Linked DNA regions of Homo sapiens: region 2 is linked to region 1. Evidence: fine-mapped expression QTL. Tissue or cell type: whole blood. Region 1 holds a variant in brackets; the other region holds the start of a gene. Each region is shown on its reference strand, or each on the opposite one.

The links. PIP is the estimated chance that this variant, and not a neighbour inherited with it, causes the effect. A credible set is the group of variants that fine-mapping cannot tell apart.
Region 2: TMEM88 starts here. The variant in region 1 is the best candidate, but not a certain one, in a credible set for the expression of TMEM88 in whole blood (TOPMed, PIP 0.73).

Annotation. Positions count from the first base shown.
Region 1 is chr3:152,239,637-152,248,163 of GRCh38, forward strand. It overlaps a transcript of MBNL1 not described here. Among named protein-coding and RNA genes, the nearest start is that of MBNL1, 25 kb to the right of the region's middle. RefSeq lists enhancers at 3,870-3,929, 4,060-4,189. The variant T/G (reference allele first, on the strand shown) is at 3,511.
Region 2 is chr17:7,851,164-7,859,281 of GRCh38, forward strand. TMEM88 (transmembrane protein 88) reads left to right here and starts at 3,903. Exons shown (of 2, transcript NM_203411.2): 1 at 3,903-4,121; 2 at 4,282-4,936. The coding sequence starts at 3,912. The coding sequence ends at 4,551. It overlaps KDM6B (lysine demethylase 6B), which reads left to right. Exons shown (of 24, transcript NM_001348716.2): 15 at 1-63; 16 at 167-231; 17 at 315-386; 18 at 485-633; 19 at 788-902; 20 at 986-1,173; 21 at 1,332-1,473; 22 at 1,837-1,963; 23 at 2,047-2,217; 24 at 2,335-3,633. The coding sequence ends at 2,358. NAA38 (N-alpha-acetyltransferase 38, NatC auxiliary subunit) reads right to left here and starts at 6,396. Exons shown (of 3, transcript NM_001320925.4): 1 at 6,220-6,396; 2 at 5,852-6,035; 3 at 5,522-5,680. The coding sequence starts at 6,300. The coding sequence ends at 5,568. CYB5D1 (cytochrome b5 domain containing 1) reads left to right here and starts at 6,840. Exons shown (of 4, transcript NM_144607.6): 1 at 6,840-7,131; 2 at 7,240-7,316; 3 at 7,443-7,661. The coding sequence starts at 6,972. It also overlaps LOC107987244. RefSeq lists enhancers at 1-660, 382-491, 548-842, 661-1,624, 822-1,051 and 8 more.

The sequences.
Region 1 (8,527 bases):
TATAAACTCCTAACACATGTTTAAATGTATTTTTTCTTGCAATTATGTACTGCTTGGCACATAGAAGAAACTAACAATGTGTTGACTGAGTTTATTCCAAATGCTAGTAATAACTCAATAGCAATAAGCACTACTAAGGTTTAGATGGTGATCTCAAAAATCCCTGTCTACCAAAAGCAACGAAGGTTCTTTAGAGAAATGGGTGATTTCAGTTCTGGGGCAAGAAATACACAAAATGAACCTGGCTATCTTGTGCCAGAAATCAAAGACATTATCAGAGAATATTAGGGTCATCTCAAGAGGTTACCATAGCCAGCATGAAAAGCCCTAAAATGGAGGATGGGGAGAATGGACCATCACCAAAAAAGAAAAATTATTGCAATGCATTCAAACAGAATGTACTTATAATCCTACATATCAATAAAAAGCTGACAATTATGCAATAAAGAAATGTTTGGTCCTGGTAGTAGGTGATCAGGTAAAAAAAATAATAATGAGATAAAATAAAAAGAAAAGTTTGGAATGAATTAACAGGTAGTTCACAAAACTGGAATTGTAAAGGAGGATACAACATTAATATGTGTTCAATATCCACAGTAATCAGGGAAAAGCAAAATAAAAATATTAAGACTCCATTTTCTTGTCCATCAGATTGGCAAATCTTTAAAAGTTTAATTAAAGCAAATACTGGCAATCGCATAAAAAAACAGGAAATGTTGGAGATTAAACCTTTTTTGACTGGGCCATTTGGCAGTGACAATTAACATTTTAAATGTATATGCCTTCTGACCTAACAATTCTACTTTCCTGTATCTACCTCACATAAAGACTTGTACTACTTTTAGAGAGATATTTAAAATGCTCAACTGATCACATTATTTTTAGCTGTGAAGAGTAACACAAATTCAATCAGTGAGGGAATTAGATATATATGAATCAGTTCAAAAGTATGTCTTGGGATACCTTCAAGCCATATTAAGCTTTTTAAAAGTCCCAGTGAAGAACATACAGTGTGATGTTATTTACATTAAAACCCCACAAAATTATTTAACTCCTTATGTGTCTTACAGGTAATTATACAGGAAATAGTTAAGCAAGTATACACATCAAACTGATAGTATTACTTATTTCTAGGGAGAAGAATCATGTTAGAGGGAATTAAAATGGACTTTTGCTTTAACTGTATTTTTAATACTATAAACATAAGAAAGTGTTTAAGTAGTCTTTGTTTTATACTTCCAGTAACCGTATTAGGTGGTCATTTAAGGCCCCATTTACAGGTGAGGAAATAGGGCTCAAAAATGTTGCCTGACCTGCTGAAGTTTAAACAATAGTAGAATTGAAAAATTAATTGAGGCTTATCTTAGGGCCTCTATGCAGACTCTTTTCTGTACATTGCAAGTAGAAATGATTTTATATTTTGCATTGGTGAAAACTTTTCTAGGGAGATAACTGGGTTGGAAACAGAGATTTGGGAGCAATCAGTATTTGCCAGTTAAAACCATGCAAGGATAGTGAGATTGTCGGGTAAGGAGAGCAAGCCCAGGACAGAATCCTGAGAAGTGGCAACATTTACTAGAGGAGCAGAGTTTAAAGACTCATAAATAAATCAGAGAAGTTGCCACATAATCAGAAGGTGAGAGTGAAGTCAAGAGCTGAAAGACAGATAACATTTCCTGGAGGAGGAAGTGGTCAACATTGGCATGTGCTGAAAACAGGTCAAGTAAGAGGGCTTTTGGATTTTGGATTTGGTAACAGGGAGATCACTGGTGATTTTGGCAAGAGTCTTGATAAATAGGAGGAAGCAGAAACCCATGCAGGAGGAAGAAATGTGAGAAAGATAGGTGGACTTAGTATGGTGGGTCCTCAAAAAGTATAAAATTACAGTATGATTCAATTCCACTTCTGGGTGTATATACAAAAAAAATGAAAGCAAAGATTCAAACAGATATTTGCACACCCATGTTTATAGCAGCATTATTCTCAATAGCCAAAGATAGCAACAACTCAAGTGTCCATCATCTGATAAATAGGAAACAAATGTGGTATATACATACAATAGAATATTATTCAGCTTTAAGAAGGAAGGAAATTCTGACACATGCTGCAACTTTGATGAACCTAAGTGAAATAAGCCAGACACAAATGGACAAATGTCATATGGTTCCATTCATATGAAGTACCTAGAGTAATCACATTCATAGAGATAGAAAGTAGAATGGTGGTTGCCAGGTTGAGGGCAGGAAGGAACGTTCAGTTATTGTTTAATAGGTACAGAGTTTCAGTCTAGAAGAATGAGAAAGTTCTGGAGATAGATGGTGGTGATGGTTGCCTAACAGTGTGAATGTACTTAATGCCTCTGAACTGTACATTTAAAAATGGTTCAAATGGTAAATTTTGTTAAATATATTCTACCATACACACATACAAAAAAGATATAAGGGCTCAAGTCAATGTGGGCAACTTTCTCAAAAAGTTCTGATGAAGAAAAAGAAAGTAATATGACAAGTCAGTCAGAGGAGGAATTTTTAATAGGGAAGAAACTTGAGCATATTTATCAGCCTGGAAGGGATCATTAGAGAAGAAGAGAAGTAGAGATATACATCCACTATTCAGGCAAAAGGTACACAAATATTGAGGAAATACATTAAAATTACAGCAGACATTGAGGACTATGCTTCCAGAGTGTGACTGGGTCTTTGGGGACTGATAAGCCTAGTGTTTTATATAATGATACCCAAATACAATAATATTTAAAATTTGTCTAAACACATAGAATCTAAGCAATTTTAATCACATTGACAACTTCTCTGTAGGGATTTCCTTATAAGTAGTTCACAAAGGAATTCAAATAAAATTTGATATCAATGACATACTGGGGTTTTGTTCGTTTATTTGTTTTTGTTTTTTGTGCGTTTTATGGAGGGGACAGCTTTCTGCATTTGGTTTATTTAACTTCCTGCAAACTCACATTAAGTATGAGTTTAGGTGAAATGGAAAATATTTCAGCTTCTAATCATCTCCTAATTACTCTGTTTGTTTGTTTTTGAGACGGAGTCTCACCCTATGGCCGAGGCTGGAGTGCAGTGGCAGGATCCCGGCTCACTGCAAACTCTGCCTCTCAGGTTCAAGGGATTCTCCTGCCTCAGCCTCCTGAGTAGCTGGGATTACAGGGGCCTGCCAAAGTGCCTGGCTAATTTTTGTATTTTTTTTAGTAGAGATGGGGTTTCACCATGTTGGCCAGGCTGATCTCGAACTCCTGACCTCAAGTGATCCACCCACCTCGGCCTCCCAAAGTGCTGGGATTACAGGCGTGAGCCACTGTGCCCAGTCTAAGTACTCTTTAATGCCTCTTTGGACATAAGGTTAAATAAAAAGCAAAGAGTGTGGTGCAGTGACAGCATGATAGCTTCTAAAGTCCAGAAAGTGGTTCTTGCAACATGTGGAGGTTTGCATAATTACTGTATTGCTCTTGCAATCCATCTCCTTCTTCCCCAATGAGCAAGGGAG[T/G]TTGGGAGCAACTGCCACACATAAAAAATGAAGCTACACATTGGCTTCTATTATCTGGCAACCTAAACCCATGATAAATATATTTGTATATATCCTTTTATTTGAATTTGGCAGTAGTACTTGCTTTGATCAACTTTTTTATGTCTTTTTTCAACCATTGTCCCTACTGTCCTTTAAATATTCTCATTTACTACTCCAACCTGTAAGAAACTTAGCCAGCTAAATGTTCAGTTTTGCAGGATCTGCACCTCTGCACCTGTTTTTTACTCTTGTGGCTGAAGTAGTGAAAGACCATAGTTCATGTGTAAGTAACAGTTTCAGTTTTGCAGTGCTTTATCTATATGTAACAGGCAACTATTCATGAGAAAGGAAGTTTGAGACTTGTAGGTAAAAAACCGCTACCCAAATTCCAGGAAAATGTCTGTTTACTGGAGGTTTTTTTTTTTTCTTCCTTTAATAAGATGCCTGTAGTCAGATTAGCATTTGTGTCATACTTCAAAGACTTTAAATTAATTAGACTTGTAAAAGCAAGTTAATTCCCATATATCAGCTGGACAGTTTTCTTCTGCATAGAGCAATGTTTTCTGTGATCATTGAGCCACACAGGAGATGCTTCCTTATGTAAACGAGCACTACTTAATCAAGTATAGGTTTCTTTTCTTTTCTTTTCTTTTTTGAAATGGAGTCTCACTGTGTCTCCCAGCCTGGAAAGCAATGGCCGCGATCTCAGCTCACTGCAACCTCCGCCTCCTGAGTTCAAGCGATTCTCCTGCCTCAGTCTCCTGAGTAAGTGGGATTCAGACGCCTGCCACCATGCCAGGCTAACTTTTGTATTTTTAGTAGAGACGGAGTTTCACTATGTTGGCCAGGCTGGTCTTGAACTCCTGACCTCAGGTAATCTGCCCGCTTCAGCCTCCCAAAGTGCTGGGATTACAGGCGTCAGCCACCGTGCCAGGCCAACTATAGGTTTCAATAGCTTAACTTTTCTAAAATTTGCTTACACATATAAACATGCATATACTTTAATTATATATGTGTACAGGCACCAATTATAGCCTGTTGCTGTGATTTCAAGTGTAAGCTTTATGAATAATTTTCCATGCCCCATAAAATGGATAAAGCATAATGACTGTTATTTCATAACTTCCTCTTTTGGTGGACTATCCTTTTGCAGAGGAAAAAAAATAATGTAACTAGAGAAGAGAGTTGAGCAGAGAACTGAGCTCTTTGAAGTGCTGGTAGTTTGTCTCAACCCATGAAGCAGCTTAACAAGCAACTATAACTAAGCATAGAGGTAAGAACAATTATTTGCTATTTTTCATTTTATTATTTGGATTGCTATTTATATAGCAACAATTTAAATGCTGGCCACATTACAGTGTAGATTAGATAAACCTGATAACTCTTTCAAGTAAGTAACCGACATTTTAAATAAAAAGTTTAATACATTTACAAAGCTTCAGCTTCACATACAAGCTTTTAAAAACCTGGAAAAATTTAAAGTTTTCATTGATCTCCAAATTATTTTACCTGCAAAATAAAACGTTATCTTTCTTGTGTATTTGTAATTTTGCACACAATTTAGTGCTGAAGAGGCATTTGGATTATTAACAAATTTGATAACTTTTCTTCTTTCCCAGCTCTAGATTATTTCTAATATTCTCTCACAGATATACTTTTGTTCATTTTGCATATTATTAGTTGAGCACTTTCCAGAAAAAAAAGCATTCTTACATTTGTTTTTACCCACCGTGAAAATATATTGTATCATTTAAAATATGACATTTCAGTATTATTTTTATATCATCACTTTATGATGATATTTGTTTAGAAAAATTAATTTGTAGTGTAGACAGCATGACTTAAAATTTTAAATGAAATATGCAAATCTAATTTTTAAAATGTATTGTTTTCTAAATAAGTTTAATTTGTATTTATAATGCTTAAAATATAGTAAGAATGAAAACAAAGTAAGACATTTGGTTTGATAATTGGAAATCAAACTAAACTGAAACTGATCTTATTAGTGAAATTCTAAAATAATCTAGATCCTAGAAACTTTTATTCAAATTTGCACTAATCCAGAATAATACCTACACATATTAACTGTATTTAATACAATTGTATTCATAATATAGCAATTTTTAAATCTTCCTTTTAAAAGCTGTTGGTTTCTTTATACTTTGGTAAAAACATTAAGGAGTGTTTAATACAGCTTTGAGAAGAAAAATCTGTTTAAGTGAACTACTCTGGCTATATATACATATGGAGGTTTGAAGAGTTTGCCTCTGAGCATTTTCATAATTGAATCCTTTTGAGAAAGTTTCATACATCACACATTTACCGTGTGAGATTTGGTAAGTATAAATATCCCAAGATGTATTTGAAGCTTTCTTAATTTGGTTTGAAAAAATTAGACTAATCTCATGGCTTCCAAAAAAGAAAGTCCACACTATCCCATCAATTAATAGATTTAATTTTTGATAAATTTTGGTAAATGGTGCTGTTATTACTGGTTCTAGTATGTTACCTAGTACCTAGTTGGTTTTTTGTTGGTTTGTTTTACGTATTTTCATGCACTACACCAATAAGTTGCACCAATAGTTGCTGTCTTCTTATTATAGGGAGAAGGAAAGCAGAGTGTTACTGTTACAAACTCAGATGTGAATTGTTGAATCAAATTTGACATACTTAACTCGATGAAAATTTTAAAATTAAGTTGATGGTTGTTAGAAATCCGTTACAATTGTGCTTCTTCATCTTTATCACACACTAATTAAACACAACTGCTTGTCAGGTCTAGGGGCTCAAGCCTGTAGTCCCAGCTACTTTGGAGGCTGAGGCAAGAGAATGGCTTAAGTCAGAAGATCAAGGCTGCAGTGAGCTGTGATTGCACCACTACACTCCAGCCTAAGTGACAGAGCCAGATTCTGTCTCTAAAAATATAAAAATAAAGAAACCTTAAAAATAAACACAACTACTTCCATCAGAAGTTCAAATGTCCACAATTTTAACTATGAGATATTTTGATATCATGAGCTATTAAGTGTTATATGTAGTATGGTAATATACTAAATAATGGCTAACAATCACAAGGAAACATAGCCCAAGGAGATTACAATATAAATTGGTCATAAGTGTAATTCAGAACAGCAAATGAAGGCTAAAGCAGCAGAGAAGATACTATCTTTCTGGCAAGACAGATTTGTTGTTGTTGTTGTTGTTGTCAATAATTAGTAAAGTCTGAATGAACATCCTAGTTCTAGATTATGGAAAATAAGTTTTTAAGTTGTTCTCTCTTTGATAAAATTGTCTTTACATAAGAAAAAAATGAGTGCTCATCTGAGTTTCCATGATAATATTAATGGTAAATAAATATTAACAAATATTTAATATTAATTATTTAATATTATTGTTTATTCATCATAAATATGATAAATAATTTATTACTGGAAAATTTAATTTTGGCTTCTGAGCTGTAGTATATATTTTACTGTGTTTTAGTAGATTATGTTTATGTGACATGATTGTCTAAGAAGTTTTCATTGAATCTAATAAAAATTGAGACTGGATGACTGCTGTGTATAGTATTGTAAAATTTGGTCTCTGTCTTAATAAGGCATAGTTTGATTGTGTGAAGTGGATGATCTTCTTGGGGGTCTATTAAACTATTGGGTCCAGGGTTGATGCTGCTAATCTCACAGTTAAATGGATGTTCTCCTCCTCCTTCACAAGATGACCTTCCCAAAGTTGCTCATCTATAGAAATAGAAAAGAATGATCTGCTTATAGAGGGCTCTATCCCACTCCAACAAATAAACGTATATTATTTTTCAAATAATAATTACATTTAGGAATAACAGTGCTATTTGTTTTTGACATAAATTACTGAACTTCCAAAAGAACATTGAAAGATTTAGTTTTTGTTTAGCTGTTTTGTTTCCTCTTCTTTTGGCCATTTTCCCATTTGCAAGAATAAAGAGAAGAAAGTTTGTTGCCTGAAAGAAAGATTACAGTTTGGGTGCAAACTCAGAGACATGACCTGTTATTGAAAAACAAAAATCTTTGTATCCCAGATAATGTGGGTCTTTCAGCCATTTAAAAGAAAATTTGTGCCCTCCTGTGTTTGTTGACTTTCTATTTATTTTTAATAAATGTAAATTCCAAATGATTGCTATATTTGCATATTCACATATAATTAAAATATGCTAAATAAATAAGAAATTATTATGATTGCAAAAATATGAGCTATGACAGTACATGAGCTCTGTATGATAAAATATGTATCATTTTCATGATACATGAAAAGAAAATACCTTTTACAGATATAAAGAATAAGGGTAAGCCATTTTATATTTCTGAATACTTCCATTTAAAAAAATAAATGAAATGGAATCTAATTTACATATCTGCATTGTAGAAAATAAAACCACTGTTCATTAATTTTTAATCTTTAAAATATAACTTGTTATTTGAGAATTAGTATAGTTCTGTTATTTGTCTGACATCATTGATGCTTTTTATCATTTTTTATTAACTAAAATTAGGCACTTAGATTTAATGTTTTTAAAATTCCTTCCAGTTTTATTTTTATCTTTATATACATTTTCTAAATATAGGTTTTAACTTTTTATTTAATTTTTTTGCTTTTAATATTATGGGGGAAAATACCAGATTTGCATATTTAAATCCAAATTTAAATAAAAATGTCATTAGAATCATTCATTAATATTGCAACCTTGGAAAGCAGATGAAGAATGAAGTTAGTCTATTGGTGTTGCTCCATGAACCAGTATAAAATTTCATACCTCATTATTATTCTACTTTACAGATATTTCATCATGAGCCTTTAGTTTTTTTTTAATATGTAGTGGTTATCACATTCTCAAAATTTTTCTCACCTTGGGAAAAAATAAATTGCAATATGATTTTGAGAAAAATCACCACAGTTTTGATTTTGAAAAAATAAGTAAAATTTTTAAAAGTGTACCTTAATTCAATCTATTTTCTTTTGCACA
Region 2 (8,118 bases), not on the chromosome of region 1:
TCCCACACCACCATTGCCAAGTACGCACAGTACCAGGCCTCATCCTTCCAGGAGTCTCTGCAGGTGAGATGAGAACGTGGCCAGAGGCAGGTCCTGGGACGGGGCTGCGGTGGGAGGGCTCTCGAAAGGTCTCTGACCCAGGCCTGCCTACCCTCTGGCTGAACAGGAGGAGAAGGAGAGTGAGGATGAGGAGTCAGAGGAGCCAGACAGCACCACTGGAACCCCTCCTAGGTACTGTGCAGGTGTGCCCCTTCTGTTCCTGCTTCCTTCCCCTCCCTCTGCTCTCCACCAACCTGTGCTCTTCGCCCCAGCAGCAGCGCACCAGACCCGAAGAACCATCACATCATCAAGTTTGGCACCAACATCGACTTGTCTGATGCTAAGCGGTCAGTGGGGCTGAGGCCAGGGAAGTTGGGGCAGGAGTGCTGCTAGGACCTCGTGGCGGGGGCGGGGTGTAGCCTCTCGTCGCACTTCCGCACCGCAGGTGGAAGCCCCAGCTGCAGGAGCTGCTGAAGCTGCCCGCCTTCATGCGGGTAACATCCACGGGCAACATGCTGAGCCACGTGGGCCACACCATCCTGGGCATGAACACGGTGCAGCTGTACATGAAGGTGCCCGGCAGCCGAACGCCAGGTGCGCTCCACGCCTGTGCGCGCTGATGCTGGAAGCGCGAGAGGAGGGGCTGGCGGCGGCGCTCAGCCGTCAGCCAATGAGGGCAGAGGGCGGGGCTATCGGGGATCGCAGTTCCGACCTGGCCAGCCATGCCGTTCTCTGTCGACCCCTGCAGGCCACCAGGAGAATAACAACTTCTGCTCCGTCAACATCAACATTGGCCCAGGCGACTGCGAGTGGTTCGCGGTGCACGAGCACTACTGGGAGACCATCAGCGCTTTCTGTGATCGGTGCGTGCCGTCCTGCGCAAGTCAGACTGCCGCGTCCCCGCCCTCGGTCCCCAGTTCCCACCTGACCTGTGGCCACCCCGCAGGCACGGCGTGGACTACTTGACGGGTTCCTGGTGGCCAATCCTGGATGATCTCTATGCATCCAATATTCCTGTGTACCGCTTCGTGCAGCGACCCGGAGACCTCGTGTGGATTAATGCGGGGACTGTGCACTGGGTGCAGGCCACCGGCTGGTGCAACAACATTGCCTGGAACGTGGGGCCCCTCACCGGTGAGAGGGTGGGGCAGGTGTTGGCGTGGTGTGGCGCCTCAGCGGCAAGGGCCTGGGAGGCTGGGGCTTGGAGAGCCGCCAGCAGTGAGGGAAGGGGCTTGGGCCTAGGTGTCTGGGGGCTGTTTGAGAGTCCTGTTGTGATCGCCTTTGGCCCGCAGCCTATCAGTACCAGCTGGCCCTGGAACGATACGAGTGGAATGAGGTGAAGAACGTCAAATCCATCGTGCCCATGATTCACGTGTCATGGAACGTGGCTCGCACGGTCAAAATCAGCGACCCCGACTTGTTCAAGATGATCAAGTGAGGACCCTATTTGGGTGGGAGCCCACCTCCACTGACTGGTCCCTTTTCTTGTTCTTCCTGTCTGACTCCACCCCATTTTTACCTCTCTCCATCCTTGTCTGCCTGTGCCCCGAGTGTTACTGTGTTGGGGAGGCTAACTAGGTCCTTGCTGTCATGACCTTTTCTAGTGGTCCAAATAGACAAAAGCCACAGGAAACTTCGCCTATAACAGATGCCCAGGACAGAGGATGTGACCTAGACATGAAGCGGGGAGGCCCCTAGGGGAGGGCCCTGGGGCTGCCCACCCCTCTGCCCTTGCTCCAGCCCTGCCTCAGGCCTCCTCCTTGCCGGTGGTCTCAACACAACCCCACTGCTCCCCAGGTTCTGCCTGCTGCAGTCCATGAAGCACTGCCAGGTGCAACGCGAGAGCCTGGTGCGGGCAGGGAAGAAAATCGCTTACCAGGGCCGTGTCAAGGACGAGCCAGCCTACTACTGCAACGAGTGCGATGTGAGTGGGCCGGCTCTGCTGCTCTCCCTGAGTGTCCACAGTGGCCCTCCCTCCCCCTGACTGCACTGTCCTCCCTGCCCCAGGTGGAGGTGTTTAACATCCTGTTCGTGACAAGTGAGAATGGCAGCCGCAACACGTACCTGGTACACTGCGAGGGCTGTGCCCGGCGCCGCAGCGCAGGCCTGCAGGGCGTGGTGGTGCTGGAGCAGTACCGCACTGAGGAGCTGGCTCAGGCCTACGACGCCTTCACGCTGGTGAGGGCCCGGCGGGCGCGCGGGCAGCGGAGGAGGGCACTGGGGCAGGCTGCAGGGACGGGCTTCGGGAGCCCGGCCGCGCCTTTCCCTGAGCCCCCGCCGGCTTTCTCCCCCCAGGCCCCAGCCAGCACGTCGCGATGAGGCCGGACGCCCCGCCCGCCTGCCTGCCCGCGCAAGGCGCCGCGGGGCCACCAGCACATGCCTGGGCTGGACCTAGGTCCCGCCTGTGGCCGAGAAGGGGGTCGGGCCCAGCCCTTCCACCCCATTGGCAGCTCCCCTCACTTAATTTATTAAGAAAAACTTTTTTTTTTTTTTTAGCAAATATGAGGAAAAAAGGAAAAAAAATGGGAGACGGGGGAGGGGGCTGGCAGCCCCTCGCCCACCAGCGCCTCCCCTCACCGACTTTGGCCTTTTTAGCAACAGACACAAGGACCAGGCTCCGGCGGCGGCGGGGGTCACATACGGGTTCCCTCACCCTGCCAGCCGCCCGCCCGCCCGGCGCAGATGCACGCGGCTCGTGTATGTACATAGACGTTACGGCAGCCGAGGTTTTTAATGAGATTCTTTCTATGGGCTTTACCCCTCCCCCGGAACCTCCTTTTTTACTTCCAATGCTAGCTGTGACCCCTGTACATGTCTCTTTATTCACTTGGTTATGATTTGTATTTTTTGTTCTTTTCTTGTTTTTTTGTTTTTAATTTATAACAGTCCCACTCACCTCTATTTATTCATTTTTGGGAAAACCCGACCTCCCACACCCCCAAGCCATCCTGCCCGCCCCTCCAGGGACCGCCCGTCGCCGGGCTCTCCCCGCGCCCCAGTGTGTGTCCGGGCCCGGCCCGACCGTCTCCACCCGTCCGCCCGCGGCTCCAGCCGGGTTCTCATGGTGCTCAAACCCGCTCCCCTCCCCTACGTCCTGCACTTTCTCGGACCAGTCCCCCCACTCCCGACCCGACCCCAGCCCCACCTGAGGGTGAGCAACTCCTGTACTGTAGGGGAAGAAGTGGGAACTGAAATGGTATTTTGTAAAAAAAATAAATAAAATAAAAAAATTAAAGGTTTTAAAGAAAGAACTATGAGGAAAAGGAACCCCGTCCTTCCCAGCCCCGGCCAACTTTAAAAAACACAGACCTTCACCCCCACCCCCTTTTCTTTTTAAGTGTGAAACAACCCAGGGCCAGGGCCTCACTGGGGCAGGGACACCCCGGGGTGAGTTTCTCTGGGGCTTTATTTTCGTTTTGTTGGTTGTTTTTTCTCCACGCTGGGGCTGCGGAGGGGTGGGGGGTTTACAGTCCCGCACCCTCGCACTGCACTGTCTCTCTGCCCCAGGGGCAGAGGGGTCTTCCCAACCCTACCCCTATTTTCGGTGATTTTTGTGTGAGAATATTAATATTAAAAATAAACGGAGAAAAAAAATCCTGTTTCGCTAACGGCTGGTGGTAGCAGGTTGAGTACCGGGAGGGCTGCAAGACCGTGATTGATGGGGAGGACTGCGCAGACCCTGGCGAGGGTGAGCCCCTCCCCGGAGGCGCCTGTGGAATGTCCAGGGCTCTGGTCCGCTCCTCGGGATGGGGGGTGCCTAATCCTAGAGCCGCATTCCAGGATAAGGGGGGTGGGGAGAGGCTGGGCCGGGGGAGGGGCAGGAAAGAGGGCTATAAGGGCAGCGGCCCAGGCGGGCGGGATCCAGGCGGGCCATGGCGGATGTCCCCGGGGCACAGCGAGCGGTTCCTGGTGACGGCCCAGAGCCCCGGGACCCCCTGGACTGTTGGGCCTGCGCTGTTCTTGTAACAGCCCAGAATCTGCTGGTGGCTGCCTTCAATCTTCTCCTGCTGGTGCTGGTGCTAGGGACCATCTTGCTACCCGCTGTCACCATGCTGGGCTTCGGCTTCCTCTGCCACTCTCAGGTGAGCGTGCGCCCCGGGGTGTGCGTGTGAGTGTGAGTGTTGGTGTGTGGTGATGCTGGCGGTGGGGTCTATGGGCCACAACTTCAACCCGCCTGGGCTGTTTCCACCCCGTGCACAGTATCGCCTGGTCGGCTTGGGCCTGACGCCTCTTCTCCCACAGTTCCTGCGCTCCCAGGCACCCCCTTGCACCGCGCACCTGCGGGACCCCGGTTTCACGGCCCTACTGGTCACCGGATTCCTGCTCCTCGTGCCGCTGCTCGTGCTTGCTCTGGCCAGCTACCGCCGCCTCTGCCTGCGCCTCCGCCTAGCCGATTGCCTCGTGCCCTACAGCCGAGCCCTTTATCGGCGTCGGCGCGCCCCGCAGCCGCGGCAAATCCGGGCCTCACCAGGGTCCCAGGCCGTTCCCACATCAGGAAAGGTCTGGGTCTAATGACCCTCGAGTCAAGAACAACCCTGACGGCTGCCCTCCCTCTTATTCGGCCCAAGGACTTGAAGCCCGGCATCTTCCGACCTGCCCTGCCCCCACCCCTGCCTGAGCGGAGTCCTAGCATCCCCTTGGGAGCAGCAGCGTCAGTGGACCCAGTGCTGAGAAAAGCCCCCACATCCCGGAAAACCCACTTTCCTTTCACGACCCACATCTCAATCCTGAACATCTAGGCTGGAACCTGCACACCTCCCCCTCAGCTCCGTCGTGAATGGGACAACAATCTCGTGCCCTCGTTTTATGGTGCAGCTTCTCTAGTATTTCTGGGGCTGGGGGGCGGGGCTGGAGGGGAAGGAGTGTCCACGCATCAATAAAGATTTAACGAACTGAACGCGCTCTGCGAACAGAGGCGTGGCACAAGTACTATCACCCCTGCCCTGTGCCGAGGAACAGGAAACATGTGCCAGGGCTACAAATGAGCAGAGAGGAGCATCCTTGAGCCCCCTGGCCTTATCGCTTTTGTCCGTTCTTCCTGGCCAGACCTCAGAGATCTGTTCCTGACCCCAGGCACCTCCCCCTCAATAGAGTGGAGGGGCCCAGCCTCGGCCGCCTGCCGCTGCTCCCCTTGGGGACCTGAGCCCGTTCTCTGACCCCAGCTTAGAGGAACTCGGTGTTGCCAGGCCGGGGTGGGAAACAATGGGCCTTCCGGAGCAGGATGACACCCCCTCCCGCCACAATTCTGGAGCAGCAGCCGTGGGAGGGAAGATGCAGGGGCCCACCCTGGGGCCTGTTGGTCCGTCATTCAGCCCTGCCCCCCATCTCTACCCCTGAACTTGAGAGAACCTTTGGCACCCCTGGACATCTTGGTTGGGAGAGGAGGGTTGAGGGTGCTCCCGACTTCAGATGAGCCCTTTCCTCTAGGGATGGGGTGTGCTATCCTGCACCGGCATCCCAGCTACACACAGACACAGGCCCATTCGGTCATAAGTTTAATGAAGTCTGAAAGGTAAGCGCCATCGTGGTCAGAGATACGGAGGCCCGGTCAGACTCTCCCTCTGCACCTCAATGGAAACGATGTGGTGTCCGGGTACCATGGCCAGGCCCAGCACACGGGGCTCCCCGGCAGAGAAGGAATCTGGAAAGAAGGATCAGAGCATCAGGAAAGTAGGCCAGAATCAGTCCCGCCCCTCTGAGCCACGAAAACGAGCCCCAGAAAACAAGGGTTGCAGCCAGGCCCTTAAGGGGAAATGCCTTGCGTAAGGTTCCGCCACATTACCAGGCGGGTGTGCATTCCCCGGGCACTGACCCGACGGCTTGAGGAACTCCTGCGCCGAGCCCAGGATGACATTGCAGTCACGGTCAGTGCAGAGGAAGCAGCCGACCAGTGTCCGTCCATCTGTCATGCGAATGCGCATAGTCTTGTTGAGCAGCGCCTCTAGCTGCTGTCGGGCGCGCTCAGCCGCCGAGTCCTCGCGCTCTCCGTCCGAATCCTGCGCGGGGTGTAACAAGCGCTCAGACCGCGCAGCCCAGGCTGCCCGCCCGCGGAACCACAGCTCCCGGCAGCCCGCGGGGCACTCACACAAAGCCCAGAGGCTGCCGGGAGCTGCAGTTCCCCACCCCCTCCATCTTGCTGCTTGACTGCCCCTCAGTCCCAGAACCAGAGCCCGTGCTAACCCCAGCACTGGAGCTGCTCTGACGCCGACTGCAACAGCCATTCTCTTCTCGTAGCAGCATGGTCGGTCCAGCTCCGGCCATTTGCCCGGAGGCCTCCTCTGGGCCTTTCAACTTCCTAAGCACCTTTCAGGTTGGGTGGTCCGAGATCTCGCGAGCGCTCCCGACCTCTTTCCTTTCGCGAGATCCCCTCTCCTCCCCCTCCTAGTCTCCTCGGCAACGGCACAGATCTCGCGAGCTTCTCCTACTTCTCTAGCGCTGTGGCTCACTGAAGCGTACTACGCCGGATGTCTTAAGATATCGCGAGACCTTTACCTCTGGTTTCTTACACATCCTTTAGAAACTGGAATTTAGCGAGAATACATTCTTTCATACTGCCTCCTCCCTTGTTTTTCTGTCTCAGAGAGATAGTCTGTCCTAAATATCCCATGTAGCCCAGGCCACTGAATTAAAACGGAGCGTATTCGTTCTCTGCCCCACCCCGCAACTCCTGAAAGCGGCGCAACTCAATTACTTGATCCTTATATGCCCCACGCGGGACTCATACTACGTTTCCCGTGAACACGTGCAGTCCAAACCCCGCCCCTGATATTTATCTCAGTGGACGGTGGCCGGAAAAGGACAATGGTTTCCATGTCAGCGGATAAACGCTCTCCCCTCGGCTCCCGGACGCGACGGAGGTCGTAGTAGTAGTGAGTACGTGCTGAGGAGCAAAGGAGTAACCAAGAGATCCAGTGACCGACAGAGCAAGAGCCATGCCGCGCCGGGGCCTGGTGGCTGGGCCAGACTTGGAGTATTTTCAGCGTCGCTATTTCACGCCGGCGGAGGTGGCCCAACATAACAGGCCCGAAGACCTCTGGGTATCTTACCTGGGACGCGTGTACGACCTAACGTCATTGGCACAGGAATACAAGGGTAAGGGCCACACGTTGGGCCGGGGCCGGAGTGTGTGTGTGTGCACGCGCGCGTTTGCCTGGTTCTCGAAGGGCTGGCATTGACAGTGGCTGTGCTGCTCTTTTCAAGGGAACCTGCTGCTGAAACCCATCGTGGAAGTTGCAGGCCAGGATATCAGCCACTGGTTTGATCCAAAGACCAGAGACGTGAGTTATGCTGGAACCTGGGATTGTGGGTAGAGGAAATGGAGAGCGGGGATGGGAAGGAAAGGCGGAGGCTAGCCAGAGCCTAATGGCTGCTCTGACACCCTCGCCCCAAACCCTCCTTTAAAGATCCGCAAGCACATAGATCCGCTGACCGGCTGCCTGAGGTACTGCACCCCGCGGGGCCGCTTTGTGCACGTTCCGCCTCAGCTGCCCTGTTCGGACTGGGCCAACGATTTTGGGAAGCCCTGGTGGCAGGGGTCGTATTATGAGGTGGGGCGGCTGTCTGCCAAGACCCGGAGCATCCGCATCATTAACACGCTCACGTCGCAGGAGCACACACTGGAGGTGAGAACTGGTGACAAGGAGCAGGTTAGAAGGAATGGGGAATCCCAGCAAATCTCCAGGCCGATCTTCAGGGCAACATTTTTTCCATAACCGGTGGGAGTGTATTTTCTGTCCTTTACATTGAGGCAACTGAGGAAAGCACAGCACCTAGGTCCCCAGGGTTGGGAATTCTAGGAGTGTCTGGGTCACAGGGGGACAAGAGACTCCTTTATAAGCCTGGGAACAGCAGTTCATGTATCTTAGTGATGGTGGTCCTTCGAAGCTCTTACACGCCGTTTTGGACAGCAATTGGACTTTCTTTTTAATCTACTCTGTTGCATGGATATAGTGAGGGGACAGTTGACCCTTTATGGCCATCCGGTAGTTAGAAGTGGCTGCCATTAAGATCTGTAGGACTTTAGGGTCTGCTCATTGCATGCTGGAGTTTCAGCTTTTTTTTCCCGGGGCCGTAGAGTAC